4 linked regions of the Homo sapiens genome follow. The protein of the gene in region 3 purifies or fractionates together with the protein of the main gene of each other region. This does not show direct contact. Each region holds a gene or a part of one and is shown on either strand. Other genes may lie near its edges. The genes, in order: THADA, GBA2, HACL2 and INTS12.

Region 1 (7,929 bases), on a different chromosome or scaffold from region 3:
GGGGAGCAAAACTGCTCCAGAATGAGAATCACTGTCTAAGAATTTCTGATTTGAAGAAGAAAAATGTTTTAAGCTGAAGCTTATTACTGACTGAAGTTATTTTACCTACTATGACTCAGTCTTTGTATTTTAAAATACAGCAAACTTTCCTTTTAGTGAACATACACACAAAAAAACTGGGATAGTTTTTCCAAAGATAAAATACTTCAAACTAACCTCAGTGACTCATTAGACTAAGAGGAGGTACTACCGTGTCCTGATTTCTGCAAAAATGAAAAAAAATATTTTTTTAATGCTATTCTCTTGAGTTTGCTTTTATCGATACTTAACAAATCAACGGGTTCATAACAGGCTAAACAACCCAACTCAGAGACTACACAACTACACACTAATAGTACCATGCCATCTGGAAAGAAGTTGCTAGGGAAATGTCATAGGGCTCTTCTCTTGATGCAGTTAGCATCTTTAGCAGTATTTATGATGCAAATATTAGAGACTATAATGTAGTACATGTATAAAATAAATCTGGAAGGACATGTTGAATGATGGAATCAGGAATAAAAACAGGTCAATAAACTGGAATAACGAGCAATATGAAATTTACCAAGATGAAACAGAAATAAATACAAAGGGCTGCATTTAGTTTAGGGGAAAAAAACACAGAAAGAGAGGCTGGAGAGGCAAAACGTGGTTTGAAACAGCTCAACAGCCCAAGATGACTGCCAAAAACCACAGAAGTCAGCCATATCAGAGTGCATGATTTTATTCAAACAGGCCAGGTGACATGTAGAGCATTAGGTACAGCGCTGGCGGCCATACTCTAAGGAGCCATAACAAACAATGGAACTATTTCTGAAGGACCTAGAGAGCACCTCCTTCAGAGAACAGCTCAGTTAACCAAAGGTGTTTGGCCTGGAGAAAAAGTCAACAGAACAAGAGCCTTAAAACAGCTGCTAGACTGTTTTGGAGAAAAAGGGAATAGATTTATTTGTCTACTACAGACTTTTTTTTTTTTTTTTTTTTTGAGACGGAGTCTTGCTCCTTCGCCCATGCTGGAGTGCAGTGGCGCGATCTGCGCTCACTGCAAGCTCAGCCTCCTGGGTTCAGGCCATTCTCCTGCCTCAGCCTCCCGAGTAGCTGGGACTACAGGCGCCCGCCACCACGCCCGGCTAATTTTTTCTATTTTTAGTAGAGACGGGGTTTCATCATGTTAGCCAGGATGGTCTCGATCTCCTGACCTCGTGATCCACCCACCTCGGCCCCCCAAAGTGCTGGGATTACAGGCGTGAGCCACCGCGCCCAGCCTTAGACTTCTTGTCTTGCTATTAGATTAGTAAAAGTCAGTACAAGCTACAGGGAAACAGATTCCAGATCAATACAAAGGAAAAGCTCTATGGTCCCACTAAGGACTGGGCTACCTTTTAAACAAAGAAATTTTCCAACACCAGGAATATTCAAAGAGAAGATGACTGAATATTTTCTCTTGGACTCCTGAAACAGCTCCCTAACTGGTCTCCTGACTTCTACACTTACCTCCAAAGAGCCCATTCTGTTTACAATCATCAAAGCAATCTCTTTAAAAAAAACTCTCATCAAATTGAATTACTTACTCTCTTCCTTAAAACTTTCCAAGGGTTTCTAAATACACTTAGAATAAAATTCAAACTTGAGGCCAGGAGTGGGGGCTCGTGCCTGTAATCCCAGCACTTTGGGAGGCCGAGGCGGGTGGATCTCCTGAAGTCAGGAGTTCAAGACCAGCCTGGCCAACATGGTGAAACCCCGTCTGCACTAACTAAAAATACAAAAATTAGCCGGGTGTGGTGGCAGGCGCCTATAACCCCAGCTACTCCGGAGGCTGAGGCAGGAGAATGGCTTGAACCCAGGAGGCAGAGGTTGCAGTGAGCCGAGATCGTGCCACTGCACTCCAGCCTGGGAGACAAGAGCGAAACTCCATCTCAAATAAATAAATAAATAAATAAATAAATAAATACTTGAGATTTTGCCCTTCAAGGCCCTAAATAATCTGACCCTGCCTTCCTCCACTCTTCATCTCAAACCAATCTCCTCTTCACCATCTCAAGAGCTTTGTACTTCCTGATGCTCTTATTCCCACCTAAGAGGCTTTACACTTCTCAGTATCTCTGCCCCTTAATGTTCATTCCACATCTTTGCAAGACTGACTCCTTCTCACCATTCATGTTTCTGCTGCAACATTACCTTCTAAAAGCCTTCCATGACCACTCTATCTAAAATCTCACCAATACAACACACGTAGACACCATTTCCGTTAATTTTCTTCATAGCACTTACTAGTACCAGAAATTACCCTAACTTGTAAATTTGTATATTGTCTGTCTCACCTAGTAGCAAACTGAATGAAGGCAGCAACTTTAATCTATTTTGTTCATGTTTCAAGTCTCAATTTCCAAACCAGTGCCTGGCACATAGTAGGTGTTTAACAAACACTTCACGAATAAACAAATTAATTAACAAACATTTGTCAGAGATGTTCTAGAAGGGATATATGTCTTTAAGGGCAGGAAGGTGGACTATCTGGTACCTAAAATGCATTCTACATCTAAGTGACATTCTACATCTTAAGAACCTATGGTCTGTTTGGGAAGTAAGAAATCCATACAGTAATGGCAGGTGAGCAACCACTTAACCAAAAATGGACGCAGCTAGGAAAGTGTCGACAACAGAATAATTTGTAAAGGGATAGTCAGATCTAGAGGAATAGAGGCACGCTTCCTAAGAAAGTGACCATCGTACAAAGCCAGAAGAGACTGGGAAACCTAACTAGGGAGACTATTCTCTGGTGAAAGGTAAGCAAGTTTGCAGGAGGATTTGCTCTTGCAATTCTGAGGGCTACACAAAAGCAGACTCGGTAATTATGCCTGCTCAAATGATGCCTAAACGTGTGTCCTGAAGAACCAGGGTCCCCAAGGGGGTAAATCCCGTGTCTACCGCAAGGCCAGAAGGTGCCCAGTAAATTACACTCCTCCTAGGTCCCACTTACTGCTTCCCTTTAGAACGCTGCTTCACTCTACACCTTCCTGGCTGACTCCCACAAACATTCTCTGGGCGATTTCTGAACCACGTGGAGTCGAGGAATGACAGTGGGAGAAAGTGGTTAAAGTGCTGTCTCCATGGAGACCTTAGCGACCGGAAATCAGTTTCACAGCCGCCGAATCCTGGCGATACCAAAGGATGGGAATTGGTGTGGCTCGCCAGGCAGCCCTAGCAAAACTGGCCGAGCCGAGCTACCGCGGGTCTGGCAGGCAGGACACCTGGGAGCCAAACCTCGTGCACGTCGGCGTCTGAGAAGAGTCGCAGGCGCCTGGTCCAGTCCCGGAAGCAGGTCTCCTTCTACGGCGTCTCCGAGGCTCGCAGCGCGGTCCACGGTCGACTACCGGGTCAGGGCAAAGGGAGGGAGAGAGGGGTAACCTGGAGGAGTCATCGCGAGAATTGACCAAACGCAGCTCCTCCAATCAGGAGTTCGAGGAGGTCGTGACGTCACCGGGGTGGCCGGTAGCAATCCGGTTTAGTTAACCAGCCACTGTACCGTCAGCGCCGCGCGTTCCTCATGGCGTTAGGGCTGACGGGCCTTGTTGCTGAGGGGCCTTCATTCAACGGTCTCTTGTTGAATGAAAAGACCTCATTCTCTTCACATGCTTGGACGCCTGGGAAGCGCTTTTCTCCCAATCCAGACCTTCCACCTTTCTCCCACTCTGTTGGCCCAGTGCAGAGTCTAGGAGAAAACTACGTCTGGGACTCGGGAACGAGTCCAGGGAGTTTAGAGCCTGCGAGATGGGGCAGGGGTTTGGGCGGCGACTGAACGGAAGCCACGAGAAGGATTCGGACTAAAATGAGTAGTGCTGAACCAACGTGTGCCAAAGCGCATATATTCATTCAATAGATAATGAACTCTACTGTCAGAGCGTCGCCAAGCGCTAGCCTTGAAAGCTATCCCCTACTGAGGATACATGTATTACGCAGCACATACAAATTGTCAGATGGTTCAGTCCTTGAAAAATAAATACAATAACGGGGTGTCACTGGGAGCTGCGACAGTGGGCAAGATCAGGAAAGACCTGATGCTATTATCAGGAGTATTAATTTGGAAAATAGAGACATTTCAGTTCTCTAAACGTTAATGACTTAAGTTTTTAATAATTATTTTCTGAATTTTTTATATCAGCTTGCCTTGGTTTTCTTTATAGCTTTACCACATAATGTATGTATCACTATCTTGTTTCGTTCAATTTTGAAGCTTTTGGAATTGCGTATGTATTCTCCAGCAATTTGCTTCTTTCAGCATTGCTTTTCATATTCACCTACAGGTGGCTGTAGTGCTCTTCGCCCAGGCTGGAGTGCAGTGGCGCGATCTCGGCTCACTGCAAACTCTGCCTCCCGGGTTCAAGTGATTCTCCTGCCTCAGCCTCCTAAGTAACCGGGATTACAGGCGCGCGCCACCACGCTCAGCTAATTTTTGTATTTTTTAGTGGAGACGGGGTTTCACCATGTTGCTCATGCTGGTCTTGAACTCCTGACCTCGTGATTCGCCCGCCTCGGTCTCCAAAAGTGCTGGGATTACAGGCGTGAGCCATGGCGCCCGGACCGTAATTTTCCATTGTTTAATATACTTCATTATGTATCCATCCTGCTGCCTCTTAACATGTGCATTATTTCCAGTTTTTGTTCTAAACATTGCTGCTGTGAACTATGTTGTGCATGTCAGCTGGTGAGTGTGTGCAGACGGTTCTCCACCATAATTTTTTCTGGTATTTTTGACCCTGACATAGTAAGAAATACATTGCAGACTTTGAAACTGTGGACGTAGAAGTACTCACACATAACTGAAGTAAAAATTTCTTGAAATGCTACTTTACAGGAGCTGTGAGATTTTATTTCCTTTTTTTCTAAATTATGGTAAAATACACAGCAAAATTTACCATTTTAACCATTTTTAAGTTTTATGTTTTTTAAAATATGTATATTGTTTCAGACCTACTAATTATATAACTCAGTGGGTCCGAACCCCTTTTTTGTTGGCAGACACTGCAACTCTTCACCCTGCACAGCGAGAGGTGGGCTAGGGAGCAAACATAATAAACATATGTTGAAAGGTGAAGCTACTGTTAAAACTTCAGACAAATTAAACTTAACAGGGTTTAATTGAGCAAGGGGAAAAATGATTCTCAAATCGGGCAGTCTCCAGAATCATAGCAGATTCAGAGAGACTCCAGGGATGCCTCGTGGTCAGAGCACATTTACAGACAAAGAAAGGAAAGTGATGTACAAAAAGCAAGTGAGGTACGGAAGCAGCTGGATGGGTTACAGCTTGGCATTTGCCTTACCTGAACACAGTTTGAACAGTAAGCATTGTATGAATAGTTGAAGTATGGCTGCTGGGATTGGCTGAAACTCAGCTATTGTTACAGAAGCACACTCCTAAATTAGGCTTTCAGTCTTGTCTACCTACTAAGTTAGGTTATGGTTCATCCACAAGGACTCAAATATGGAAGTGCAGAGGCTTTCTCAGGCGGTATTTAGTTCAATTTAACACCGCCATGGAAAAAATAGGGGAATGGAAAGTGAGAGTATAGGGGAGGTACATTGCAACTTTAAATAGGGTAATCAGGGTAGGCCTCACTGAGTAAAGATTTCCAAGAGACATAGACACTTGGTGAAGGGGAAACCTTCCATACAGAGGGAACAGCCAGTACAAAGTTTCCAGGGCAGGGCTTGCCTGCTGGGAGAATAGCAAGGAGGCAAGAGTGGCCGGAGCCAAGCAAGGTAAATACTAAGGAGTGGGACAAGGGGCTTTGGATTATATAAGGCTTTCACATTATTTCATGGACTCTTTCATGAAATGAGGAGTGATTTTGAGCAAAAGAATAATAACATCTAATGTACATTTCAAAATAATCACTGGAGCTACTTTGTTAAGAAGAGACTGTAGGTCGGACGCGGTGGCTCACGCCTGTAATCCCAACGCTTTGGGAGGCTGAGGCGGGTGGATCACCTGAGCTCAGAAGTTCAAGACCACCCTGGGGAACATGGTGAAACCTCGTCTCTACAAAAATGCAAAAAAAAAATTAGCTGGGCATGATGTTGTGTGCCTGTAGTCGCAGCTACTCGGGAGGCTGAGGCACGAGAATTGCTTGAGCCCCAGAGGCAGAGGTTGCAGTGAGCTAGCATTGCGCCACTGCACTCCAGCTTGAGCTGCAGAGTGAGACTCCGTCACAAAACAGAAAAAAAAATAAAAGACTGTAGAGCCTGCAGGAAGCCCAGTGAGGCTGTTGTGGTAAACTAGGCAGGCAGGATGCTGGTGGCACTGACCAGGGTGGTAGCAGTGGAGAGCGGGAAGTGGACAGGTTTTGGATATAATTTGAAAGCAGAGCTAACAGGATTTTTTTCTGAAGGATAGAATATGGGTATGAAGAAATGAAGAGTCAAAGATGAGTCCAAAGTTTCTGGCCTGAGCACCTAGAAGGATGAAGTTGCCAAAGTTTACTTGGAGCAGATTTGAATGGGTTTAAAAGAGACTGGGAAGAGAGGAATTGGCAAGATCAAGCAGAGGCAACTCCTTCTAGTCCTTCTAGTACGCAAGGGGCAGATAAATGGAATGGTAACACCTAGAGGAAGTATACTGCCAAAAGCAATCTACAAATCCAATGCAATCCCCATCGAAATACCACCATTATTCCTCACAGAATTAGAAAAAACAATGCTAAAATTCATATGGAACAAAAAAAGAGCCCGCATAGCCAAAGCAAGACTAAGCAGAAATAACAAATCTGGAGGCATCACACTACCTGATTTCAAACTATGCTATAAGGCCATAGTCACCGAAACAGCATAGTACTGGTATAAAAATAGGCACATAGACCAATGGAACAGAATAGAGAACCCAGAAATAAACCCAAATACTTATGGCCAACTGAGCTTCGACAAAGCAAACAAAAACCTAAAGTTGGGAAAGGACACCCTTTTCAACAAAAGATGCTGAGATAATTGGCTAGTCACACATAGGAGAATGAAACTGAATCCTCATCTCTCACCTTATACAAAAATCAACTCAAGATGGGTTAAGGATTTAAATCTAAGACCTGACACTCTAAAAACTCTAGAAGATAACATTGGAAAAACCCTGACGTTGGCTTAGGCAAGGATTTCATGACCAAGAACTCAAAAGCAAATACAATAAAAACAGAGATAAATAGTTGGGACTTAGTTAAAGTAAAGAGCTTTTGCACGGCAAAGAACAGTCAGCAGAGTAAACAGGTAACCCACAGAGTGGGAGAAAATCTTCACAATCTATAAATCTGACAAAGGACTAATATCCGGAATCTACAATGAACTCAAACAAATCAGTAAGAAAAAAACAAACAATTCCATCAAAAAGGGCTAAGGATATGAATGGGCAATTCTCAAAAGAAGGGCCAGGCACAGTGGCTCACACCTGTAATCTCAGCACTTTGGGAGGCCAAGGCGGGCAGATCACCTGAGGTCAGGAGTTTGAGACCAGCCTGACCAATATGGAGAAACCCTGTCTCTACTAAAAAATACAAAATTAGCCAGGCATGGTGGTGCATGCCTGTAATCCCAGCTACTTGGGAGGCTGAAGCAGGAGAATCACTTGAACCCGGGAGGTGGAGGTTGCGGTGAGCCGAGATCTCACCATTACACTCCAGCCTGGGCAACAAGAGCGAAACTCCATCTAAAAAAAGAAGAAGAAGAAGAAGAAGAAGATACACAAATGGCCAACAAACATATGAAAAATGCTCAACATCACTAATGATCAGGAAAATGCAAATCAAAATCACGATGCAATACCACCTTACTCCTGCAAGAATGGCCATAATCAAAAAAATCAAAAAACAGTAGATGTTGGCATGAATGTGGTGATCAGGGAACACTTCT
Region 2 (8,013 bases), on a different chromosome or scaffold from region 3:
ACTGTGCTGACTCCTTCCCCTATCCTTGGTTCCCCAGGTCCCAGCATCCCATCGACTTCCCGGCTGGGTGTGAGGTACGTCAGGAGGCAGGAACCTGCCAGTTCTCCTTGGTGCAAAAATCTGACCCTCGGCTGCCCTGCAAAGGGGGAGGGCCTGACCCAGAATGGGGCTCAGCCAACACCCCTGTTCCTGGGGCTCCTGCTCCCCACTCCAGCTAAACTCAACTGATCATCCATCTGCTGACTGCTCACTGCTGCTGCCACTTCCAGGGAAACCACTAGCAGCTGCCAATGTATTCTGAACAAATAAATTAATGCTATAGCTGAAAGCCCGACTCTCACTGTCCACGACATTGGACCCCAGGTGGAAAAAGTGGGTCCCATTAGAGTCCAGGTGCTGAGTTCTCAGTATCCGGAAGGAACTAGCACCAGGGTGGGCCAGTTTCAGATGGTTATGGTGCTGGTGCTGGGGCCTGGGGCAGCATATGAGGCCAGGGTGGGGCTAGTAGGCAGCACCTTGATGGGCAGGTCCCAGCTGAAGGTGTCTACAGGTACTTGCTCAGGTCCTGTCCAGGTGGTAGGTTCGGGCTGTTCCACAGGGGGTAGGAGTACCAATCCTGGTTCTCGGGACGTTACAAATTCAAAATGCAATCTCCACTTCAAGGACACTATGGAAGAAAAAGATTAAGGTAGAAGCATCAGAAGCTAGCAGGAGTAAAAGCCAATGACAGGATATAGTTAGTGAATGAGAAGAAAACAATCTGTGTTCAGGAAGACAGGGAAAAGTCACAGGGCAGGGAGCTGTGATTAAGGGTTTTTCTGAAGCAATGGGTACTACCACAGATGTGAGCTGAAGATAGCAGTATTAAGTACCTAATAACCTAAGAGTGAGGCAGTCAAGTCTAGGTAGCATGAAGTAATCAAAAATCAGTGTATCACAGGGTCCTAGTAGGTAGGTGTGGGGAAGGAGTTCTATCAAGCTGTTAGGAGTTTAGGGGTCAGTGCATCTAAGAAACAGGAAGAGGTTGAAGGTCTGAGAAACTGTTCCGGGTCAGAGGCTAGACGTGGGTATGTCTGGGAGTGTGTATAAGGAATCAGGATCCATTACACCCTCCCTTAGCACAGCATTTTACTGTCCCCCTCTCCCTTCTCCAGTAACAGTGAGGGTCTCACCAATGGCTGTACAGAAGCCTGGGGTGGAGCTGAGAGGGATTGGGAGGGAGAAGCTGGTTCTAGTTGTATGTAGGCAGGATTCCTGGTGCCGGGCGTGAGTCACATGTGACACAGAGGGGACACCCCCTGCCCCACGTCGCCGCTGGTACTCAGGCTGTACACGCTCCTCGGTCTGTAAGCTGACTGAAAACTGGGAGCAAGAGACAGGTGTGTGCTAACAGGAAGTGCTGTCTGTAGGTGAGAGGACAGCCCAACCTCAAGCTGTTTTACAAAGGGACCCTGGATGACCCCACTATCCCCTTCTACATGCCACCCCTCTTTATACAGGCCTTCCACCCTAGCCCTTCAACCCCAGCACCCCAGCAGGTAAGAAGCTCTGCTCCCTTCTTACCTGCAAACAAGCTACGGTTCCTTCCCCTAAGTTTAAGGTCCCCACCACGTCCTCGCCAAGTCTGTACACAGATTTGAAGATGCCAAACGTCCCAACTTTCCCTCGGCCATCACTGATATTGTATAGATCTGGGGAGAATAGGACACTATAAGCCTGGAGTCTACATACTGGATAACGTCTAGGACTGGGCACCACAGGCCAAAAGATGGGGCTTTTCTTTAAAATTGGAGGTGTCAGGTATCAGTGGATCCACAGAAGTGTGTGGTGGTTAGGAGACTGTCTCTGAGATGGGAAAACAATGAGGGGAAGGATGGGGTAGGACAATTCTGAAAGAATTCTCACGGAGGCTGCGGCAGGATGTGGCAGCCATTAGGCGTTCCCCAGCCAGCTCAGCTAGCCATGAATCTTTCTTCCCACCTTCATCCTCCTCCAAGAATGGACTGGATGGGGCTACAGCCTCATCCTGGGGAAACCGGACATCCTGAAGGCCTAGAGAAAGAATGAGTGGAGAGGTAATGCTGAGAGGGAACGGAGATGAGAGTAGAGGTTAGGGTTTTAGATTCTAACATGAGATGGCTAAAGGTAAGGGGTGCCAGGGCTGAGGTTTACATCTCTATCTCCAGAACCCTCCCTCCCTTCCCAACTCCCTAGCACTGTCACTGAGACCAGGAAGTTTCCCTGCAGTCCCTCTTGCAAGCCCTCTAAGACAATTTCTGCTTTGGCATCGCCCTTCCCCAGCCCTTCCCTCCAGGAGCCCTTGCTTACCAGTCAGCACAAGAACCCTCAGAGGGACTCTGAGTAAAGTGATAGGGGAGTTGACACGCTGGCAGCCAATGGTCAGTTTGTAGACGTACTTGACTGACTGACCCCGAAAGGAGGGTGGTCCCTCTATGGGCAGCACTTCACTGTAGGAGTCTGGTTGGGAAGTAGTTGTCAGGACAGCCAGAGGCACCAGAGGAGTCCTCCCTCCAGGAGACTTAGAAGGCAATTCAGGGATGGGGACAATCACTCACATGATTTGGACTCTCCAGGATCAAGCCTCAGGTCACAGAATAGAATTTTCGGTGGAGTAGAAAGGATACACTGGCCCCTCTCACCTGAAAAAGGTAAAAATGACTAATTTAATGACCCATTGTCCAGTACTGAACAAGACTAGCACGGCAAGTGGAGATAGTGAAAGGCTGCCAGGCCCTCCGTCCCTGCTGTGAAATGGGAATAGTCTTCTACCCCTAAAGCAATAGTCATGCTCCCCAACATCCCCAGCATGACAGGGACTATAAGAACAAGAACAATTAACAACTTCACCCATGGGTGACAATGCCTCCACACACACCCTCCGCACCCCCCCTCTCCCAGGCAAATGCCCCTCTCTAACCTCGGTGTGGCAGAAAGACAGTCTGGCTGTCGGGCTGGACATCTGGCTGACTAGAGTCAGGAGGAGGCAGTGCTACTCGACTCTCACTGGCATGGAACTGGCAGTGGATTTGGGCACTGGCCCAGGCCAGGGCCTCACTGTGGGAAAAGGAAAAGGAGGCATCAGAGGTAGTTCCTGACCTCACAAATGCTTTCCCAAGCTCCCTATCACACCATCTTAACCAACAAGGTTAGATGGCTGTCCTAGTGATCAGGAAATCCACAATCCCAAAGAGAAACCATTAAATAAAGAGTAGCAGACTGTGCGTAAAAAGGGGAACGGGGGAGGGGAAGGAAAGCGTACAGCTATGTCATCCACATCTTCTGTTAAAGAGCCCTCTCCTACAATGACAGCACAGTGAGCAAGAGGAGGTGGTGTCGCTACAGGACAACCTGAGCTCTGCCTCAGCCCCAGAGATAATCTGGCTTCTTCCCAGAAGGGCCACCACCTTCAGTGCCAGCATCCCCACCTGGATGCAGAAGTGGCCGTGGGCGGAAGGGGGTTGGTGACGGTCACTACACACTCCAGCGCCTCCCCAGCCAAAAATACAGGACCCCGGCTGAGCTCTGCTACCACTTCAATCATGGCAGCTCCGGAATCAGATCTAGAAGGAAACAAGGCGGGGCGGAGGTCAGCACCTTGACAGGGAGGGGCGTTGCGGTGAGCACCTAGGGCTGAGGGCTGAGGACAGGGGTGGTCAGCACCGTGGTGCCCGAGGGAGCTCCTGGATATAGGAGGGGTAGGCGGGTGGGAGGGAGGCGACTGAAGACTCAGTACTGCCCAGGGGGAGGACATCGCTCTGGGCCCTAGACCCCAGCCCCTGTGCGACGGGTTCTTCTCCCTGGGCACCCCCGCGGAGTTCCCAAACTGGCCTCCGCTCCCCCTTTCCTCAAAGTTCCACGTCCCAGCCCAAGATCACCGCCGCTAGTCACCTCGCATAGTCGACACTAGGGATCGGCACCCCTAGGCCTCATCTGCCCGCCCCTCAGGGACCTGGCTAGGTACGCGGCGGCGGCGGCGGCGGCGGCGTCCGCTGGGCGGTAGAGGCGGGACTTCCCTTCGGTCCCCCACCCTCCGCGGAGTCCCTTCCGGCCGGAAGCGCCCGGCAGGCCAGACCGGAAAGGGCTCGGGTCATCCCGGCGCCCAGGGTCACCTTCCCACGGGCTGGCACCTGGGCGCGGGCGCTGCCCCGGAGCCGGCCGGCGGGACCTGGCGCCCAATCCTGGGGGACCCGGTGCCGTGGCCCAGGGGCCGGGCCGAGGTCCCGGGGGCGGTGCCTTGCGGGCCCGTCCCGGGGCGGTGCCTGGTGGGCTGGCCCCGCGGCTCCTCCCCTCTCTGCGGGCCCAGTCGCCCTTTGGCCGGGCGAGCTAATCGTCGGCTCAATGACGACGAGGCCCGACCCTTCCCGTCCAGGACCTACAGAGACAACCGAAGGAGAGCCCAAGGCGGCTTCTTTGCTGTCGCCGCCCCCACTGAAGCAAGAGCTCCCCGGCTCCACTGAAACACCAGCTCATTTAAGCTTTCCCCAACGCCCGGCCCTCCGGGACGATACCTAACAACGACCGGCGCCCGCATCTGGAATAGGCTGGCGAGATACTTAGTATCCGAGGGCTCGGGACTTGGCGCCATCGAGGTCATGGGGACCCAGGATCCAGGGAACATGGGAACCGGCGTCCCAGCCTCGGAGCAGATAAGCTGTGCCAAAGAGGATCCACAAGTTTATTGCCCTGAAGAGACTGGCGGCACCAAGGATGTGCAGGTTACAGACTGTAAGAGTCCCGAAGACAGCCGACCCCCAAAAGAGACGGACTGCTGCAATCCGGAGGACTCTGGGCAGCTGATGGTTTCCTATGAGGGTAAAGCTATGGGCTACCAGGTGCCTCCCTTTGGCTGGCGCATCTGTCTGGCTCATGAGTTTACAGAGAAGAGGAAACCCTTTCAAGCTAACAACGTCTCCCTAAGCAACATGATAAAGCATATAGGCATGGGCTTGAGGTGAGTAGACCCCATTGCCTAGAATGCCTTTGGCTTCACTTTGTTCCAGCTCAAAACTTCTAGCAGAGGTGGGAAAGGGCAAGAAAGCAGTTGGGCTTCTTGTCTGAGTGAAGCGGTCCCTATCCCTGGCATATTTTAGGCCTGTGGTTTTGGACCGTGAGACCAGGTCACATCTCTTTGCAACACCCTTCCCTCCCAGTGTTTTGTCTTTTCAGAAGGAAAGGGTAGGAACATTTGGTCATGCAATCAGCCTTTCCCATTCAGGCTCTTCTCACATACTGGTTTCCAATGACTTCCCTTTGGGATTAGCTATACTTTGTGGCAAGGTAGGAAAGGATAATCTGGCTGCTGTGATACTAACACAATGTTGTTTTATTTGGGGGTGGGGGGGTCTCAACCCCTTATTTCCCACAAGCAGCTGGGGCATTCTCTGTACCTCATTAGACACACTGTTAGAGTCCCAACACTACTGCTTCTTTCTTCAAGCTTTAGCTCCAGGGAGTAGGTAAGAAGAGCCTCCCTGCCCTCACCTCTGAAGTGATGAGAAGGTGCTGTCATTCTGTTCTGGGATAGAGAGCTCTTGATATTAAGTCATTTATCAGAGAGGCACTGCCATAGATGTAGAACCCATCTAGATCCCCACTGAGTTCAAAGACTAGTGATGAGGAGCCAGACCCATTAACAGGAACAGGTGGATGTGAGGACAGAAAGCATCACCCTGAGGTCATCCTGACTCAGTCTACACAATACACACAGAACTGTGGAGGGAGGCATAAAGCTTGGGAAACCCTGCCCTTACAGTTTCTAGAGTAGGAGACCCTTCATTTCCCCAGTCAGTGCTGTGGGGCTGTGATGGGGAGATCAGTTATCTAACCCTAGCCCTGGGGAGTGGGAAGGGCCTGATGCTGCCTGCACATCTGGCTTTGTTGGTGCCTGTGGGTAGCCTGTAGCAGAGAAGAATCATCCCTCCAGGCTGCTTCTGGAATCAATTCAGTCCAAGTTTGACCCCAAAAGTTTTTGCATCAAAATAGGATCTAGTGTACATAGAGAAGTACACTGAGTTGCATGTGGTAGGAACAATGAGATCAAGAAAAGATGGGCATCCTAGCCTCTTAGCCCTTAAATATGAACTGAGTCATAGAGGCCTGAAGCTGTGCTCAACCCCCTGGACCCTGGCTCCCCATTCCAGGATAGAGTGGGGGGTACTGATACAAGGCTTTTGGAATAGGATGAGTTCCTATGAGGAGAAAGCACAGGTGAGACAAGAATTCTAAGTGATAACTCTTGAGTTGAGGTTGAAATTGTGGAGAAGGCCAAATAGGTCAGGAATGGCCAGCTACCATATTAAGGGAGTAAGAGAGCTCCTAAGATGGAGCTGAACTGTGGGCACTCTGACCAGGAGCTCTAGCAAGACAGAATTCTCTGGGTCTTACCTTCGTAAGAACTCAATTTCAATTGTTCTCCCTTCCAGCCAGAGTCCACTCATTCAATAAATATTTATTGAGTGCTTGTTCCATGCCAGATAGTCCTTTGTTCTGTCTGTCCTCATAGATTGCAGTTACTCTCCCTGGTTGCCCTAATCCTCGGCCACACCCTCCCTCTACCAGTCCTTTCTGGTCTCTAGTTTCAAAGTCCGGTTTTCTCTAAGCTGGCAGAGAGGATTCTCTGCCTTCCTGTCATCCCATCCTTTGTCTTCCCTCTTCTTTCCACCCCTAGAATGTGCTGTCCCTTTTTATTTTATTATTATTTTTTTTTTGAGACAGTCTTGCTCTTGTCACCCAGGCTGGAGTACAATGGTGCAATCTCAGCTCAGTGCAACCTCCGTCTCCTGGGTTCAAGCGATTCTCCTGCCTCAGCCTCCTGAGTAGCTGGGATTGCAGGTGCCTGCCACCACAGCTGGCTAATGTTTTTGTATTTTTAGTAGAGACGGGGTTTCACCACATTGGCCAGGCTGGTCTTGAACTCCTGACCTCACGTGATCCGCCCACCTCGGCCTCTCAAAGTGCTGGGATTACAGGTGTGAGCCACCGTGCCTGGCCGCTGTCCCTATTCATTAATCACATTTCTTCTCCTCTGCTCCAGTCTGTTATCTCTCTTGTGCCCCATCATTTGTATGTTCATTCATCTGTAAAATTGGCAAATATGCATTGACTGCAGACCATATGTCCTACCCTGTGCTTGGACCTGAGGGTAATATTCAGCTAGTCTTTGTCATTGTCCCTTTCCCCAAGGAACTTAAAAGTATGTCAGCCTCACATGAGGAACATTGAAATAACAAGGCAATGTCTGATTAGGAATTGAGATAACAGTTTGTATATATGAGTAATAATCATACCTGTACTTTATGGCTTTCTTATCTATTATGTCATTTGATCTTTCAACCATTTCATTAGATAGCTAGAGCAGGTGGTATCCCCATTTTGTAGATGAGGAAACTGGGACTTAGGGGTTACTTACCCAATTATTTGGTTAGAAGTGGTGTGACTGAACAGTAGGCATAATGTGGCAGTAGGCAGGAGAGTGGAAATGGGAAAGAGTCTGGCAGGGCAGGGGCTACTTAGTGAGGACCCATCTGGAATGAGAATTTGTAGGAAATAAGATTAGAAGATAGGCTGGGACAGATGTCAGAGCCTTGAAAACAGAATCGTTTGCCTATTGAAAACAGCCTCAATCATTTGCCTCTTGGATATAGGGCTGTACCAAGCCCAGGAAAATGTTGGGATTTTTTGAAGGCTTTACCAAGAGCAAAATCAGAAAGCTTCACAGTTTAAATGTTGAATTTAAAAAAAAAAAAAAAAAAGGCTTGAGAGGAAATGTCCAGAAATAAATATAAACACTGATTGTCTATGGGTGAGATTATTTTTTTCCCCCTTTCACCTTTCATAATTAGAAAGAAAAATGATCATTTTAAAAAGAAGAAAGGCCAGAAGCGGTAGCTCACGCCTCTAATCCCAGCACTTTGGGAGGCCGAGGCGGGCGGATCACCTGAGGTCAGGAGTTCAAGACCAGCCTGGCTAACATGGTGAAACCCCATCTCTACT
Region 3 (7,924 bases):
GACAGCAGGCCCTGGCCTCACCAACACGGTGACTGCGGTGAAGAATGCTCAGATGGCTCAGTCCCCAATCCTGCTTCTGGGTGGGGCTGCCAGCACTCTGCTGCAGGTACCCAGTCCTTGGGGGCCAGTGGGGGCCTAGGGGGGCTTGAAGGGCTCATGCGATAACCCTGCCACACCTCTGTCTTTGCCAGAACCGGGGTGCGCTCCAGGCTGTTGATCAGCTGTCCCTTTTCCGGCCACTCTGTAAGTTTTGTGTGTCTGTGCGGAGGGTGCGGGACATTGTGCCCACCCTGAGGGCCGCGATGGCTGCCGCCCAGTCGGGCACCCCAGGTAGGTGGAGGATGGTGATGCTGAGCAGTGCTGGGGCCGAGGGGCTGGGGACATGTTATGGACTCAGCGTCCTCCCTGTCCCTGCAGGTCCGGTGTTTGTGGAGCTGCCCGTTGACGTGCTGTACCCCTACTTCATGGTCCAGAAGGAGATGGTGCCAGCCAAGCCACCCAAGGGCCTCGTGGGCCGAGTGGTCTCCTGGTGAATAGCCCCACCCCTGCCATTCCCTCCTTTATCCCCCGTTCTCTCCTGCAGCTTCCAGCCCACACCCATCCTCCTTTGATTCACATGTGGACTGGGAGGAGACAGCTGGGGGGAGAGCATTCCAGGTAGAAGGAACAGCATGTGCAAAGGTCCTGAGGCAGGAATGAACTGGGTGGGTAGGGAAAGCAAGGCGGCCCTCGTGGAGGCAGCAAAGGGGAGAGGCTCAGGACAGCCCTCCTCCTCCTCCTTTTCCCTTTCTTCTCCTCCTCCATCATCTCTTCTTCCTCCTCTTCCTCCTCCCTCTTCCTTCCTCTTCTCCTCCCTTTCCCCCACCACCTTTCCCATCGTCCTCTCCGTTTTCCTCCTCCTAAAGGATGATCCTTGAACCTCGGAAGGGAGGTTCATTCTTACATTTACAGAGGAGGAAGCTCAGAAAGGTGAAGTCACTTGCCCAAAGTCACACAGCTAAGAAGTGGCAGAGCCCAGGCCGGGTGCGGTGGCTCTCACTTGTAATCCCAGCACATTGGGAGGCCGAGGTGGGCAGATCACGAGGTCAGGAGATCGAGACCATCCTGGCTAACATGGTGAAACCCCATCTCTACTAAAAATACAAAAAAAAAAAAAATTAGCCGGGCGTGGTGGCGGGCGCCTGTAGTCCCAGCTACTTGGGAGGCTGCGGCAGGAGAATGGCGTGAACCCAGGAGGTGGAGCTTGCAGTGAGCCAAGATCGTGCTACTGCACTCCAGCCTGGGTGACAGAGCAAGACTCCGTCTCAAAAAAAAAAAAAAAAGTGGCAGAGCCCAGACTCGAGCCCTCTCCTTCCTCCTCCTTTCCTTCCCTCACATCTTTGTCCTTTTCTTTCTTTTTTTTTTTTTTTGAAACAGATTCTTCGTTCTGTTGCCTAGGCTTGAGTGCAGTGGCGTGATCTCGGCTCACTGCAACCTCCGCCTCCCCCTGGGTTCAAGTGATTTTCCTGCCTCAGCCTTCTGAGTAGCTGGGACTACAGGCGCCCGCCACCACACCTGGCTAATACTTGTATTTTTAGTAGAGACGAGGTTTCATCATGTTGGCCAGGCTGGTCTTGAACTCTTAACCTCAAGTGATCCACCCTCCTCGGCCTCTCAAACATTACAGACATGAGCCACTGCGCCTGGCCTCTTCTCTTCTTCTTCTTCCTTTCCTTTCTTCTCCTCCTCCTCTTCCTCTTCTTCCTCCTTCTCTCCCTTCCCCTCAGTCCCTTCCCTTTGCCTGTCCTTGGCCCTTCCTTTCCATACATTTAGCGAGCGGCAGCCATGTGCCAGGTTCCAGGACAGGCACGGGGCATCATCAGTGGACAAGGTAGTCAGGCTCCTGTACTCCGGATGTGTGTGAAGCGCCTGAGGGTCAGCTCAGGCAGTAGTGATTTTGTTCTATGGCCTCTTTATTTTTTTTGAGACGGAGTCTCGCTTTGTCCCCCAGGTTGGAGCGCAGTAGTGCGATCTTGGCTCACTGCAACCTCCACCTCCCGGGTTCAAGTGATTCTCCTGCCTCAGCCCCCGGAGTAGCTGGGAATACAGGTGCAGTCCACCATACCCAGCTAATTTTTGTATTTTTAGTAGAGATGAGGTTTCACCATTTTGGTCATATAGCCTCATTCTTAATGCACTTTGCCCCCTGGCTTCCCAGTCAGTCCCTCCCCTTGTTCTCCTTGCCCCTCTCTCTTGGGCTGCCTCTCACAAGGCTATCTCTTATCTTGCCTTTTTTGTTTTGTTTTGTTTTGAGACAGGGCCTCACTCTATCACCCAGGCTGGAGTGCAGTGGTATGATCATAGCTCACCACAGCCTTGAACTCCTGGCCTCGAGCAATCCTCCTGCCTCAGCCTCCCTTGCCTTTTCTTTACTTGCGGGGCTTCCCACGGTTCCATCCTGGGCTGCTTCTGTGCTGTCTTGGCCTGTCCTTAACGGTGAAAGCAGAGGCTTCTGACTCTGAGCTCCGACTGTTTCCTGCCAATGCCCATGTGTCTGTCTTTCGCTGGATAGAGCGCCCCCTGAGGGGAGGGCTGGGCAGGATCTATCTTTGTGTCTCCAGGGCCCTGCACAGGTCCTTCAGGAAAGTTGGGGCCCTGGGGCCCAGTGAGCAAGGAGACCGAGAAGACCCTGTTTGAAGCAGGAGAGGACAGTGTTCAGAACTCCCATGCAAAGCGCCTCATGTCCTAAGTGGACAGATCCTTGAACCTGGGGAGGGAGGTTCATATTTACATTGACAGAGGTGGAAGCTCAGAAGGGTGAAGTCACTTGCCCTAAGTTGCACAGCTAGGAAGTGACAGAGCCAGGACTTGAGCTCACATCTGTTGGACCCACAGGCTTAATCCTGGCATGCTGAGCCTGCGTTCCTTGCTTCTGGGGGGCTACGTGGAGTTGGGGTGGACCCCAGAGGCTACCGAGGGCAAACAGGCAGTTGAAGACCTGGCCACTAGGGTTCGTCTGTCCCTGAGGTGTCACTCATCCACCCTGTCCCCATGCCACTTTGCTCCTGGCTTTTCTCCCGGCCCCTTTCCTTGCTCAGATCCTGGAATCCTTGTAGTTAGTTAATTCTGGCAACTTGGTTTCTTCCCCCTCCCTTTTGCAGGTATTTAGAGAATTACCTGGCCAACCTCTTTGCAGGAGCCTGGGAGCCTCAGCCCGAGGGACCGCTGCCCCTGGACATCCCCCAGGCTTCCCCGCAGCAGGTGAATTGCCTCTCTTTTGTGTCTGAGGACCCTACCCTCTCCCTGAGGGGAGAGGGCCCCCTGACCCTCTCCCTGAGTCAGTACTGGGGCCTTAATCTTGGGTGCTCATGGCGACTCAAGGGCGGCCCTTTGGCTGGACGCGGTGGCTCACAGCAGCAATCCCAACACTTAGGGAGGCCGAGGCAGGCGGATCACTTGAGGCCAGGAGTTCAAGACTAGCCTGGCCAACATGGTGAAACCCTGTCTCTACTGAAAATACAAAAGTTAGCCAGGCATGGTGGCACGCGCCTGTAATCCCAGCTACTCTGGAGGCTGAGGCGGGAGAATCGTTTGAACCTGGGAGGTGGAGGCTGCAGTGAGCTGAGATCATGCCATTACACTCTATCCTGGGCAACAGAGTGAAACTGTGTCTCAAAAAAATAAATAAATAAAAAGACAGCCCTTTGATCCCCACCTCTCGCTCCAGGTTCAGCGCTGTGTGGAGATCCTGAGCCGGGCCAAGAGGCCTCTGATGGTGCTGGGGAGTCAGGCCCTGCTCACCCCAACGTCTGCCGACAAGCTTCGGTGAGAAGCGCCAGCCCTGCCCTTGTTTTCACGTTCCCAGTCCCCAGTCCTCGGGTGCTCTTGGGGAGGCGGGAGGCCCCGGCCACACTGACCTCTGCTCTGCCTGGACTCCCAGGGCTGCCGTGGAGACCTTGGGTGTTCCCTGCTTCCTTGGAGGGATGGCACGGGGGCTGTTAGGCCGCAACCACCCCCTCCACATCCGGGAGAACCGCAGTGCGGCCCTGAAGAAGGCGGATGTCATTGTCCTAGCAGGTGGGCCTGAGCCTCTTCCTTTCCCTCCTTCCCCCAGGAACCCCCTCACCCTGTTACCCAGCTTCACACGAAGGAGGAGGAAGGTCTAGTGGGCACCTATTGTACTTGATACACATTTTCACATAAAGCGCTTTGAACCCAACCAGACGCATAATAGGTGTATCAGATAGCTACTGCCCTGTAACAACCATCCCCAAACTCAATGGCTAAAAATGCATTTCTGATTTCTCAAGATCCACCTATAAGGTAGGTGGTAGCTGTGGTTTTGGCTGGGCTCATTCATGAGTCTGCACTTGGGTTAGGCAGGAAGGCAGCTGTGCTGATCCAGGCTGGGCTTGCTCACCTGTATGGGGATTGGCTGGCCCTGCAGCTCGTCTGGGATGGCCTCAGCTGGGGTCATAGAGTTCTTCACCCCTGTCTCCATGGCCCCCTTGTTTCTCATCCTCCAGTAGGCTAGCCTGGGCTGGCCGACTTGGTGAAGGATGAGAAAACTATGGGGCTAGGAGAGTGCGGTTATTCAAGAGAGTGAGTGGAGGCTGTGTGGCTTCTTGAAGTAGAGTCTGCAGGAATGGGGGGTGGGGGTCCTGAATCATCTGGAGGTGTCTTCACTCAGAGGTCTTGCAATTGACGCCAGCTGTTGGAGGGGCTGTGGACTAGGGCAACTACACAGGTCTCTATGTGTGGCTCCGGTTTCCTCCCAGCATGATGGCCTCAGGGTAGTCAGACTTCTTAGACAGAGAGCACATTCCTTGGCCCCACCCAGGCCTCTAAAAGTGAACAAGGAAGAAACTGCATATCTTCCTTGTTGGGTGTCATGGTGTGTCACTTTCAAGGAAAGGGGACCTAGGCTGCACCTCTCTCCATGGGAGGCATGTCAAGGTGACCTTGTACAAATGGATGTAGGGTGGGAGATATTATGGCCATCTGGGAAAATATAACCTGCCTCTGCCCTATCCTGTTGGCCAAAGCATGTCATGAGGCCAGTCCCGATTCAGGGGGTGTGGGGAGCTGCAAGGTCACTGTAGGTGGCACAGGTGCAGGGAGACTCGGTGAGGAACAGGGACTCATTTGCATCCAGTCCACCACAGTGGATCAAGTAAGGTAGACGACATGGGGCCTCTGCCTACTGCATTCCTGTCCCCCACACCAGGAACTGTGTGTGACTTCCGCCTATCCTATGGCCGTGTCCTCAGCCACAGCAGCAAGATCATCATCGTCAATCGTAATCGGGAAGAGATGTTGCTCAACTCAGACATCTTCTGGAAGCCCCAGGAGGCTGTGCAGGGTGAGCCCCTTAATCCCCCCGTACACATATGTGCTCCTCCCAGTCCCTCTCCTCCTGGTTTCTGCTGCAGCTGGCTTGAGCCTGGTACAGTGATTGAGGCCCAGACCTTGCCCTAGGGGTAGCCAGTCAACCAGAGACAAATAGTTGGCTCTCAAACTGATGAATGCTTCTTTCTTTAAATTTTTTTTATTTTTATTTTTTAGAGACGAGGTCTCGCTCTGTCACCCAGGCTGGAATGCAGTAGTGCAATCACAGCTCACTGCACCCTCAAACTCCCAGGCTCAAAAGCAATCCTCCCACCTCAGCCTCCTGAGTAGCTGGGACTACAAGTATGCACCACCATGCCAGGCTAATTTGTTAATTTTTTTTTGTGGAATCAGCATCTCACTGTGTTGCCCAGGTTGGCGTGGAACTCCTGGCCTCAAGTGATCCTCCTGCCTCGGCCTCTCAAAAGTGCTGGGATTACAGACCAGAGCTACTGCGCCCGGCCTGATAGATGCTTCTGTAGGAACAAATGGTGGGGTGGACACAGAGGGAGGCTTGAAAACGTGCATGTGATCACGTTCCCTCCCACACTGCCCACTGCCCTCAGGACAGAGAGCACACTCGTTGGCCCCTTAGCCTGTCTTCCTGCCGTATCTCTCCCCTCCCCTTATTTTAGTCCCCTTGGACTTGAACTTGGTTCATCATTCTGAGGATGTTGACTCCCCTGCAGCCTAGGCGACAGGACACTCTTGTATTAAGCAGAGAAGTAGCACCGTTGCATCTGTGTTGGGAAGGTCCACTCAGCAGCCATGGACGGCAGGCCGGAAGGGGGCTGGGTGGAGGCCAGGGGGGCTGCTCAAAATGGCCAGGACAGAAGCGAGGAGGCCTGAACTGGAGATGAACAGCGGCAGAGCCTCACCTTCTCAGAGCCTCCATTTGATCATTTGAAAAATGGGGTGGTGAAAGATACATCACGGGGCTGTTTGTTAGTTCACTTCAGTAACGTTCGCTGTGCGCTTCCACGTGCCTGGATTTGAGAGATGTGCTTGGTGGATGTAGCTCTTTTCATTGAGTGTTTCCCAGGCAGAAGGAGGTGGAGGGAGGGGACGAGGCCAGCTTGGGTTTGTCACCTGCCTTGTGCTCCTTAACCCTTGTTTCTTGGGCCTTGTCTTCCCTTTTCACCTGGGCTGCCCTCCCCTGGTTCTGGCAGGTTCTGGGGTGTTTCACCTGTTTTTTTTCTAGGAGCACCCCTGGCCTGCTTCCCGTCTGCCTGCTCGGATGCTGCTGCTGGCTTCCTGCTGTTTTGAGGCCTCTGATGCTGGAAGAACAGGAGGAAGCCAGCTCCCCACAGCTGTGTCCTCTTCCTTCCCCAGGAGATGTGGGTTCCTTCGTGCTGAAGTTAGTGGAGGGCCTTCAGGGCCAGACCTGGGCCCCAGACTGGGTGGAGGAGCTGCGGGAAGCCGACCGGCAGAAGGAGCAGACCTTTCGGTGGGGCCTGGGTGGAGTGGATGTGGGAAGGGGGTTCCCGGCAGACCCTGCTGCCAACCCTGGTGACCTTCGCTGTCCTGTCGCAGGGAGAAGGCAGCGATGCCTGTGGCCCAGCACCTGAACCCAGTGCAGGTGCTGCAGCTGGTGGAGGAAACGCTACCTGACAACTCAATTCTGGTGGTGGATGGCGGGGACTTCGTGGGCACTGCTGCCCATCTGGTACAGCCCCGCGGCCCCCTGCGCTGGCTCGATCCTGGTAAGGAAGGGCCCCCGCCTGGGGCAGTGGGCACCATCCATCAGGACGCCTTCACACCCACCTGCTCTTGGTCCTCTTAGGGGCCTTTGGGACTCTGGGAGTTGGTGCAGGATTTGCACTTGGGGCCAAGCTGTGCCGGCCAGATGCTGAGGTGAGGCACTGGAGTTGGGAGACTTGCTGCTCTCTAGGTCCTGATCCACCCTAACCATCCTGGGTCCCCTCCCGACTAGGTCTGGTGCCTGTTTGGGGACGGAGCTTTTGGCTACAGCCTCATCGAATTTGATACATTCGTCAGACACAAGGTGACTGGGCTGGCCTGAGGGAAGCTTAGGGCCTGGGGTTCTGGGAGATGTCACCAGGGGTGGGCTGAGGTGGGGAGGGAGCCTCCTCTCTGGCAGAGGCCCTATCCCTGTCTCTGTCCTCTGGCTGGCCAAGCCATGGGGCTGAAGGCTGCGGCCTGCCTTCATCATCTTCCTGTAGATCCCAGTGATGGCCTTGGTAGGGAATGATGCTGGCTGGACACAGATTTCTCGGGAGCAGGTGCCCTCTCTGGGCAGCAACGTGGCCTGTGGCCTGGCCTACACTGGTGAGGGGGCCTCAGCGAGGTTGGGAGGACAGGAGGCTGTTTCAGTCCCAGCTGGGCTTGTGTTCCTCTCCTGGGCTGGCTGCATGTGCGGTGGGCTGAGTCCTTGCCACTATCCGACTTAATCTCTTCTTTTAGATTATCACAAGGCAGCCATGGGTCTGGGGGCCCGGGGCTTGCTGCTCTCACGGGAGAACGAGGATCAGGTGGTCAAGGTGCTGCACGATGCCCAGCAGCAGTGCCGAGACGGCCACCCGGTTGTGGTCAACAT
Region 4 (7,924 bases), on a different chromosome or scaffold from region 3:
TTATTGACACCTTTTCTACCTTTATACTCTTAAGAAGATTCACAAAAGCATTACATTCACATATAGGTAAAAGATAAAATTTTACAAAATAACATCCTACTTAAAAAATGGTAGTTATTATACCTAAAATATATCCAGTTATAATTTAGAACTTTACTCTGAAATAGTTGATAAAACATTTTTAGCTCTTGAAATCAAGGTAGCCTTCAATATTGTCTGCATGCATACATTTTTAATCAATGTGAAAAGTAACAAAAATAGAGTTCTGAGATATTCGATTTATAAGAGAAGGAATCCAGATATTTGTCCACATACTCTGAAAATTGATAGGAAGTTTTCTTACAGTAACATATTAACTATCTTATGAAGTTATCCAGAGAAGAAAAACTACATAAACCATTTATTCCTAGAGGAATATATACCAGCAATGAGAGAAAAAGTTAGTCAAGAAGTAAACCTTTAATTTTCAGTTATGAAAGACCTAATTTTTTTTCCTTTTCTTGCTATTAAACATAAAACTGTCTGCCATATGGTTAAATGATCTTTCAAAAAACTTCACAAAAGAAAACCCACCTTTAGTAATTAAAAGACCAACACTTAGGAAGTACAAGCAAGAAAGCATGTTCTATGTGTCTGGCATTTCATTTTAATGGCTTGCTGTTGCTTAGTATTGCTTTTCAACAGGATGACAGATGGTTTATAATACTATCAGGACACATAGAAGTAATATAACACAAACAATGGAGACCAAGTGATTTCTTACTATTTCAGTGTAGAAAACAAATTTCTCAAGTTTTTAACTATAAATATTTTCTTGCCTATTTGCTAGATGGGCAAGTTAGAAAAGACATTTGCTTTTTATATGTGAATGGGAACAATTTTTTTATAGTATAAATTTATTCACTTTTATAAAAAGTGAATTTTTTATTAAAGAAACACAAAACCTCTTAATCAAAACAAATATGACAGCAGTCTTTAATTTGTTTGCCATAAAATGATTTCATGTTGAATTTTCTAAAAATAAACTTTAGTAGTAACAGATTAATCTAAAAATCTACTAAAAAGTGATTATATGCAGAATATAGCAACTCTAATTACTTTCAATAAACTGGTTATTCTTACTTCTATTCCAATTCACCAAGTTCCTATATGACAAATCAATAATGGATATGCCTTGGATAGCAAATCTTCCCTGGCAAATTAAAATGAAAAATAATCTCCAAATATAATTATCAATAAGTTTTTAAAAGTATTTCGTATTCATATTCTTTTTCATCACATCAAGGGTATGAAGCTTACTACTTACAGTCACTTAGATAAGGCAATAACTTTAGAGTTTTCTCAGGTCAATCTTTGAGAATTTGAGGCTATTTTTTTTTTAATATTTTTTCTTCCATATTTAGTGCTATGCTTAATATTGGAATGTGTACCTCAGTAAAAGTATTCTTTTTGTTATGAAATTAGATTAGAAAATTATTTTTTTCCATGATATAAAAAGGCCAAGATATTAAGAAATAATGTAGTATGATTTCAAGGATGCAAACTTAGGAATGAGAAAGGTGATACCCTCACTAGACAATGTGGTCCCTTGGTATAAGAGGTAGATAACATTGAAAGTTTATTATAAAGAAACAAAACAAGACAAAGCAAGAAAACTCCTTCAACAGCCAATAAGAAGGGAGAAAAAAAAATTACAAGGCCAATCTGCTCAAGTAGTGTGGGGAGCAAAATTGTTGCTACTGAGGGCAGAGGTATTTTGAATTTAAACCAGATTTCTTTTTCTTTTTTTGAGTTGCAGTTTCGCTCTTGTCACCCAGGCTGGAGTGCAATGGTGCTATCTCAGCTCACTGCAAACTTCGCCTCTGGGGTTCAAGCGATTCTCCTGCCTCAGCCTCCCAAGTAGCTGATCACAGGCACCGCCACTATGCCTGGGAATTACAGGTGCCCATCACCACCCCTGGCTAATTTTTGTATTTTTAGTAGAGATGGGGTTTCATCATGTTGGCCAGGCTGGTCTCAAACTCCTGACCTCAGGTAATCCACCCGCCTTGGCCTCCCAAAGTGCTGGGACTATAGGTGTGAGTCATGGCACCTCGCCTGAATTTAAACCAGATTTCTGATTGAAGACAAATATCTAACCAGATGAGAATGGTAAAGAATGTCATTTTGGAATGATCATAGACTGTTCGTATTTGTGATAAAAAGAAAAACAACAGAGTTAGAGATTAATTAATGATATAAATGTTCCCTTTCTACCTAATATAATAGTAGTAAAGTCTTAATTTCTAAAATATAGCCATTTAGTATATAAAGTTTCTCATTAAATTTTTTATCAAGCAACTATTTTTTAGTCAACTAAACTTTAAGATATAATCTTAGATAAAAATAGAATCTACTATACCTTGACTTCTGTTCTCTTAAACGCTAGAAAAGTTGTCTCTTGTTTCAGTTTAGTTTCTGGTTTCTTAACCAATGGATCTTTGACAGCTGGAGTTACAGAAACAACTGCAGGGGCTGGTTTCTGCGGTGGTTTCTGAGTTTTTTGAGCCTGCAAAAATCAGTGGATTAAATCAGATACAAAATCTTAACTGAATATACAGAAAGATAATAATCCCTCACAGGACTCATCACTGAAATGAAATACAGTTGAACATTTTAAAAAATAGTGTGATGATAATGAATATATATGCTCTTTGACAAATTATTATCATATTAATGGTCTTACAGATTGTATTAGTTTCTAAACAGTAAAGATAATATTAAGCTTTAGAAATAATACAGAAGAGGGTTAGTTAAATACCATTTTAACAAGATAAAATTGTTTTTTAAAGAGCAAAATCACAAACTATATGTAACCGTTAGCTTTACTCATGATGAAGTACATTTATTTCTCATTGGGGTTTGTCAAATACACAAGAGTTTTCTTCTTGGGGTCTAGGCATAAGTCGACTCCTCAGTTGCTGAGGGCAAATTAAAACACAGCTCAGATCATTTATATGGTTTTAAATATAGAACAGGGAGAAAAAAACTATTGATAAATGATTAAACTTTTTGAGGTTTTTCCACATTGCAAAACTAGGCACACTAAATCTTTAGAGAAAGTTAATAAATACAAATTTCTATGTTATGAAAGAATTTTCACCCACTATTATTTTATAAGCATCTTCAGTTTTATTTTGACCAATAACTGATTTTTTCCTTTATTTTATAACTAGGTACTTGACTAAATTTTCCTATAAACTCTAATCATTTTTGAGTTTATTTTTTAGTGTTTTCTAGGTAGATAATTATAACTGTTTATAAATGGTTATGTGCCATGTTTAAGAGTAATTTTCAGAGTCAAACACAGTTAGGATTAAAACCCAGCAACTGGCTGGGTGCAGTGGCTCACGCCTGTAATCCCAGCACTTTGGGAGGCTGAGGCGGGTGGTTCACTTGAGGTCAGGAGTTTGCGAACAGCCAGAACAGCCTGGCCCACATGGTGAAACCCCGTCTCTACTAAAAATACAGAAATTAGCTGGGCATGGTGGCGGGTGCCTGTAATTCCAGCTACTCAGGAGGTTGAGGCAGGAGAATTGCTTGAACCCATTAGGTGGAGGTTGCAGTGAGCCGAGATCGCACCACTGCCCTCCAGCCTGGGCAACAAGAGCAAAACTCCATCTCAAAAAAACAACAACAGAAAAAAAAACAGCAACTATTTTTCTAGATACATTACCTCAGGCAAAATATGTGAATCTCTAAAAGCCTCATTCTCTTCATCTGTAAAATGGTAATAGCATTTGTTTCAAAGGTGGGTTATGAGGATGAATTATGATTATGTAAGAGTTTAGCATAGTGTCTGGAAAATGTTGAGTGCTAACAAAAAGTTACTGTTTATTCATCATTATTATTTACAAAGGATAATCAAACTGAATCCAGAAAAATCCATGCATACTGAACGGGGAAAGATGCTTCCCGCCAGCCATTCCATAGTCTTTGATAATCTTCATAAGCCCATACAGTACTATACCAGGGAATTTATTAACAATTTGTCACCATTTCTGGAAGCCAGAATTTGGCCTATTTTGCTCTTGTTTGGGCCTTCTTGTGTAATCTTGGGCTACTGTTTGCCATACTATATAGTTTGGGTCCTTAAATCTCAATTCGTATCACTTTTTATACTACATACCTTCCACATCAAAGTACACCTACCTTCAACATCACTTATAAAGCAACAATTAGATCAAGAATATTAAGAATGTTCGAAGTAATTCACTGTTGATTACTTGATTACTGGTACTAGCAGGAAAGCAGAGCCATCTTATCCTTCATTGCAAAACCATGTTACGAGAATGCATCCCTCACAGTAAAACAGAAACATATGGCTCCAAAACCATGGCTTTCAATCTTAACACTGCCTTCCACCCACATCTAGCACTCCTGAGGTTAGACTCTGAGGACCCACCTAACTTGTATGTTTTAACAGATAAAGACTAATTATGATGAAGCCCCAGGAAGTACTTCTGCCTGTGAGATCATGTTTCAATCTTCTGCCTTCCCTGTTTTATCCAGCCATCTTAGAAACTGAGTAAGAAATACCCACAACCCTTTGTCCTTTACTGGTAATACTAGTTTAGGGAACTAGGATATAATTACTGATTCAGTTTTGTTCAACAAAGGTACTAAAATTTTCATTGGATGACTGCTTCAAACATTGCAAAATGTATAAAATTCTCCACTAAGGCACTAACTGCCAGAATGGCAGTACTAAAAACCCCACCTATTTCTAAATGCTGCAAAATAGGAGTGTGTTACTACCTTAGATTGAGAACCACTGCAATAAGTGATATGAGTCTCTCACCTGAAGCTGGGGAAAAACTCCACTACTGCGTAGAGAGAAAACTATAGAACTGAAGAATAACCTTGGACCCTGCCATACACGATCACAACATTCTTAACTAGGTCTTCCTACAATGATGTGTACCGCAGAACTTGCCCCAGTTTGAGGAATCTGTTTGAGGAGAAAGGGGATATCAGGTCCTATTTATAATATCTTTGAGATACCTTGGAACAATAACCAATGCACATATGAGAATCTCACTCAAAGCAATTATAGTTAGAATGACTGTATTTAGAATCCCCACTGTTCCAAAATTATCTCATTAAACCTTACATTTCCTGGATTCTGATCTTTAGGCTCACTTCAGATCATGTCTTTTGGTATTTCCCCACATTTGCTCTTGGTGTATTCTAGTCATGTTATAATATTAGCCATGACTCCCCATTTAGTACTTTGACTTCTGGACACACAGACCAGATTCACTGTTGATTTCTGGTACTAATCTGCATTTAGCCTGGCATGGTGGCTCATGCCTATAATCCCAGCACTTTGGGAGGCCGAGGCAGGAGGATCACTTGAGGTCAGGAGTTCGAGACCAGCCCTGGCAATGTAGCAAGACTCCATCTCTACAAAAAATAAAAAAAAAATTAGCTAGGCCTGGTGGCACATGCCTGTAGTCCCAGCTACTTGGGAGGCTGAGGTGGGAGGATTGCTTGAGCCTGGGAGGTCAAGGCTGCAGTGAGCCATGGTCATGCTACTGCACTCCAGCCTAGAAAACAGAGTGAGACCCTGTCTCAGAAAAAGAAAAAAATTACATTTGCTTCATTTTATTTAACTTAAGAACAACAGAATGTAGAATGTGTCCAGTCTTGAGCTCTGCTTAAGTGCTATGCCAATGAATACATGCTCTTACTGATAAATTAGATATTATTTGCAAAGCAGATAAAAGAATAAACAGTATCCCAGATGAAGAGAAGAAGCTGAGAAGCAGAAAATATGGGAACATGAAAGTTCTCCACATATTCAGGGAATGACACACTTAGTCTGTGTCAGAGTGGCCAGAGTGTATGAATGTGTATGCTGAAGCAGTGAGAGAGAGGGCTGTAAGGTAGAGTCGGGTCAAAAAGAGAAGGTCCATATATGCATCCTAATGAGTATAATCTCATTATATAAGTAATTGAGAGCCACTGGGCATATATAAGTAGGTAAATATTTTAGAAGAATTCTAATGATAGTAAGCAAAGTGGATTGATAGGAGGCAAGGAGATTTATTAAGTGGCTATTGCAATAGACAAGTAATGGATTTGTGGAACAGGGTAATAAAAGAGAAATGAATAGATTTCAGAGACATATAAGAGGTAGAATTAGCAAATCTGGTAAACAATGGGATATGGAATTAAAAGAGGCATCAAAGATGTTTTCTAATTCAGGCAATTGCAGAAAAAAAAAACTGGATAATAGAACAACTTTCACTTTTAAATATATTGACCTTAAAGTATCTATAGACTATCTAGTTAGCTATAGAAGCTCACCCAGGAAGAGGGTTAGAACCATAAACATAGATTTGACATAAATCAGAAAAAATGGAGGAGAAAAAACTTGGGGGAAGAACAGTGCTTACTTTAGATATTAAAGGAGCTAAAGTGATAATAATAATGAAACAGTTGAGTACATACTAAAGAAAGATAGATTATTGTCACAATTTGTTTCTTTTGACAATTTCCAATTCTTAGTGGTTTCTTATCAATGCTCTGGAATGCATTGCTCATCTGTAATAATTTCACTTGAGATCCTGGAGGGCTAGTTTAAATAATAAATTAAATAAAAACCAAACTGAGCAGAACAGATTGTAACTTGTCATAGAAATTTCCTGTTACAAGTAAGAAATATACACACTATTGATATACACACTTTTCATTTACTACTTTTTATTTCATAGGAATAAATAAAAACACTTCCTATTTCTGATTTAACTGATTAAAAAGTAAAATGGGTATCCCGAGTTTTTACTTTTAACTAAGTACTTCTGACCTTTAAAAGATATATTGGTTAGACAAATTTATATAGAAATTCATTTGATTAACAGACATGAGAACTCTGCAATTGAGAATCACTAATTTAAGGCAGGGGAAGAGAGATGGAAGTGGGAGGGAGAGGTGGAGAATAAGACATTATGGCAATTTCTTGTTTTCTTTAAAAGAAAAATTATGAAATTCATTTATCATTTATCTATTTTATAAGTGAATAAAAGTTAGAAAACTATCCAATATAACAAATGAAAAGATATTTCACTATGATATTAAAGGCAGGTATGTTAGTCAACAGTAAAAAGAGAAAGTACATAGGAAGAATGAGGTAATGGTCACTTGAGGACAATGAGAAGGAAAGACTAAGCAACAGAGAAATGCAGCTGGAAAGACAGATATGCACATATAAATATCGCCTCTGTACACATCTTATCCATGCGGTGGTTTAAGCTCACTCAGAAATTTTCTATATTTCCTTACCAGATCTCAACAAAGAGTGGGGCTTTGTATCTCACCACTTCTCAGTGCTGCATGGTATTTTAAAATGTTTGTCAATACATTGACAGACTAGTAAGGAATATTCATAATTTGTGTGTCACCAATCTTGTTTTATCTATATTAGAATTAGATAAAACTAAAAAGAGAAAAATGCACATAACATGGTCTGGTCTTTAGCAATAGAAATATTAATCACATGTACATACTATACATATAAATAAATAATCAGCTTATATTATTTATTTTTTCAATATCTTAAATATTCAAATCTTTGTTTTGAAAGCACATACCAACAAAAACATTGACAGACTGTTTAAAATAAAGAAAAATATGATTCCTACCATTCTTTTCATTTGTCTGGTACATCGGGCACAATACCACACCAGGCGAGGGTCATTCGCTTCCTTGTCTGTCACCTGGGGTTTATGACAATCTCGGTGGTAGAGATTATGGCACTCCTGACATTCTACTAATTGATTGCCAGATGCCACCATCATTTGCCTAAGAAAACATACCATTAAACATTACACTACTTTTTTAAATGCCATAATTTAAAGTTATTTCAGGGGCCAGGTGTGCT

What was found.
Region 1: the proteins of HACL2 (region 3) and THADA purify together in Homo sapiens (co-immunoprecipitation; 3 studies listed by BioGRID and IntAct, with this or other methods). This does not show direct contact.
Region 2: the proteins of HACL2 (region 3) and GBA2 purify together in Homo sapiens (co-immunoprecipitation; 4 studies listed by BioGRID and IntAct, with this or other methods). This does not show direct contact.
Region 4: the proteins of HACL2 (region 3) and INTS12 purify together in Homo sapiens (co-immunoprecipitation; 3 studies listed by BioGRID and IntAct, with this or other methods). This does not show direct contact.

Annotation. Positions count from the first base shown.
Region 1 is NC_000002.12:43,592,628-43,600,556, forward strand, and holds the start of THADA (tRNA (32-2'-O)-methyltransferase regulator THADA), read right to left. Parts: upstream 3,412-7,929; 5' UTR 3,304-3,411; exon of another isoform or gene 3,020-3,303; intron 264-3,019; exon of another isoform or gene 217-263; intron 1-216. UniProt on the Homo sapiens protein: Together with methyltransferase FTSJ1, methylates the 2'-O-ribose of nucleotides at position 32 of the anticodon loop of substrate tRNAs.
Region 2 is NC_000009.12:35,745,305-35,753,317, reverse strand, and holds the start of GBA2 (non-lysosomal glucosylceramidase), read left to right. Parts: upstream 1-4,089; 5' UTR 4,090-4,613; coding exon 4,614-4,972; intron 4,973-8,013. Other genes in the region: MSMP (prostate-associated microseminoprotein precursor), read left to right, coding at 38-218; RGP1 (RAB6A-GEF complex partner protein 2), read right to left, coding at 444-667, 1,173-1,362, 1,564-1,691, 1,906-2,052, 2,329-2,478, 2,577-2,660, 2,939-3,075, 3,447-3,562. UniProt on the Homo sapiens protein: Non-lysosomal glucosylceramidase that catalyzes the hydrolysis of glucosylceramides/GlcCers (such as beta-D-glucosyl-(1<->1')-N-acylsphing-4-enine) to free glucose and ceramides (such as N-acylsphing-4-enine).
Region 3 is NC_000019.10:15,115,298-15,123,221, reverse strand, and holds part of HACL2 (2-hydroxyacyl-CoA lyase 2), read left to right. Parts: coding exon 1-106; intron 107-191; coding exon 192-330; intron 331-417; coding exon 418-529; intron 530-3,140; coding exon 3,141-3,240; intron 3,241-3,706; coding exon 3,707-3,804; intron 3,805-3,919; coding exon 3,920-4,056; intron 4,057-5,206; coding exon 5,207-5,341; intron 5,342-6,699; coding exon 6,700-6,814; intron 6,815-6,900; coding exon 6,901-7,070; intron 7,071-7,150; coding exon 7,151-7,221; intron 7,222-7,300; coding exon 7,301-7,372; intron 7,373-7,550; coding exon 7,551-7,656; intron 7,657-7,791; coding exon 7,792-7,924. UniProt on the Homo sapiens protein: Endoplasmic reticulum 2-OH acyl-CoA lyase involved in the cleavage (C1 removal) reaction in the fatty acid alpha-oxydation in a thiamine pyrophosphate (TPP)-dependent manner. Involved in the phytosphingosine degradation pathway.
Region 4 is NC_000004.12:105,684,291-105,692,214, forward strand, and holds part of INTS12 (integrator complex subunit 12), read right to left. Parts: intron 7,846-7,924; coding exon 7,686-7,845; intron 4,991-7,685; exon of another isoform or gene 4,841-4,990; intron 2,549-4,840; coding exon 2,402-2,548; intron 1-2,401. UniProt on the Homo sapiens protein: Component of the integrator complex, a multiprotein complex that terminates RNA polymerase II (Pol II) transcription in the promoter-proximal region of genes.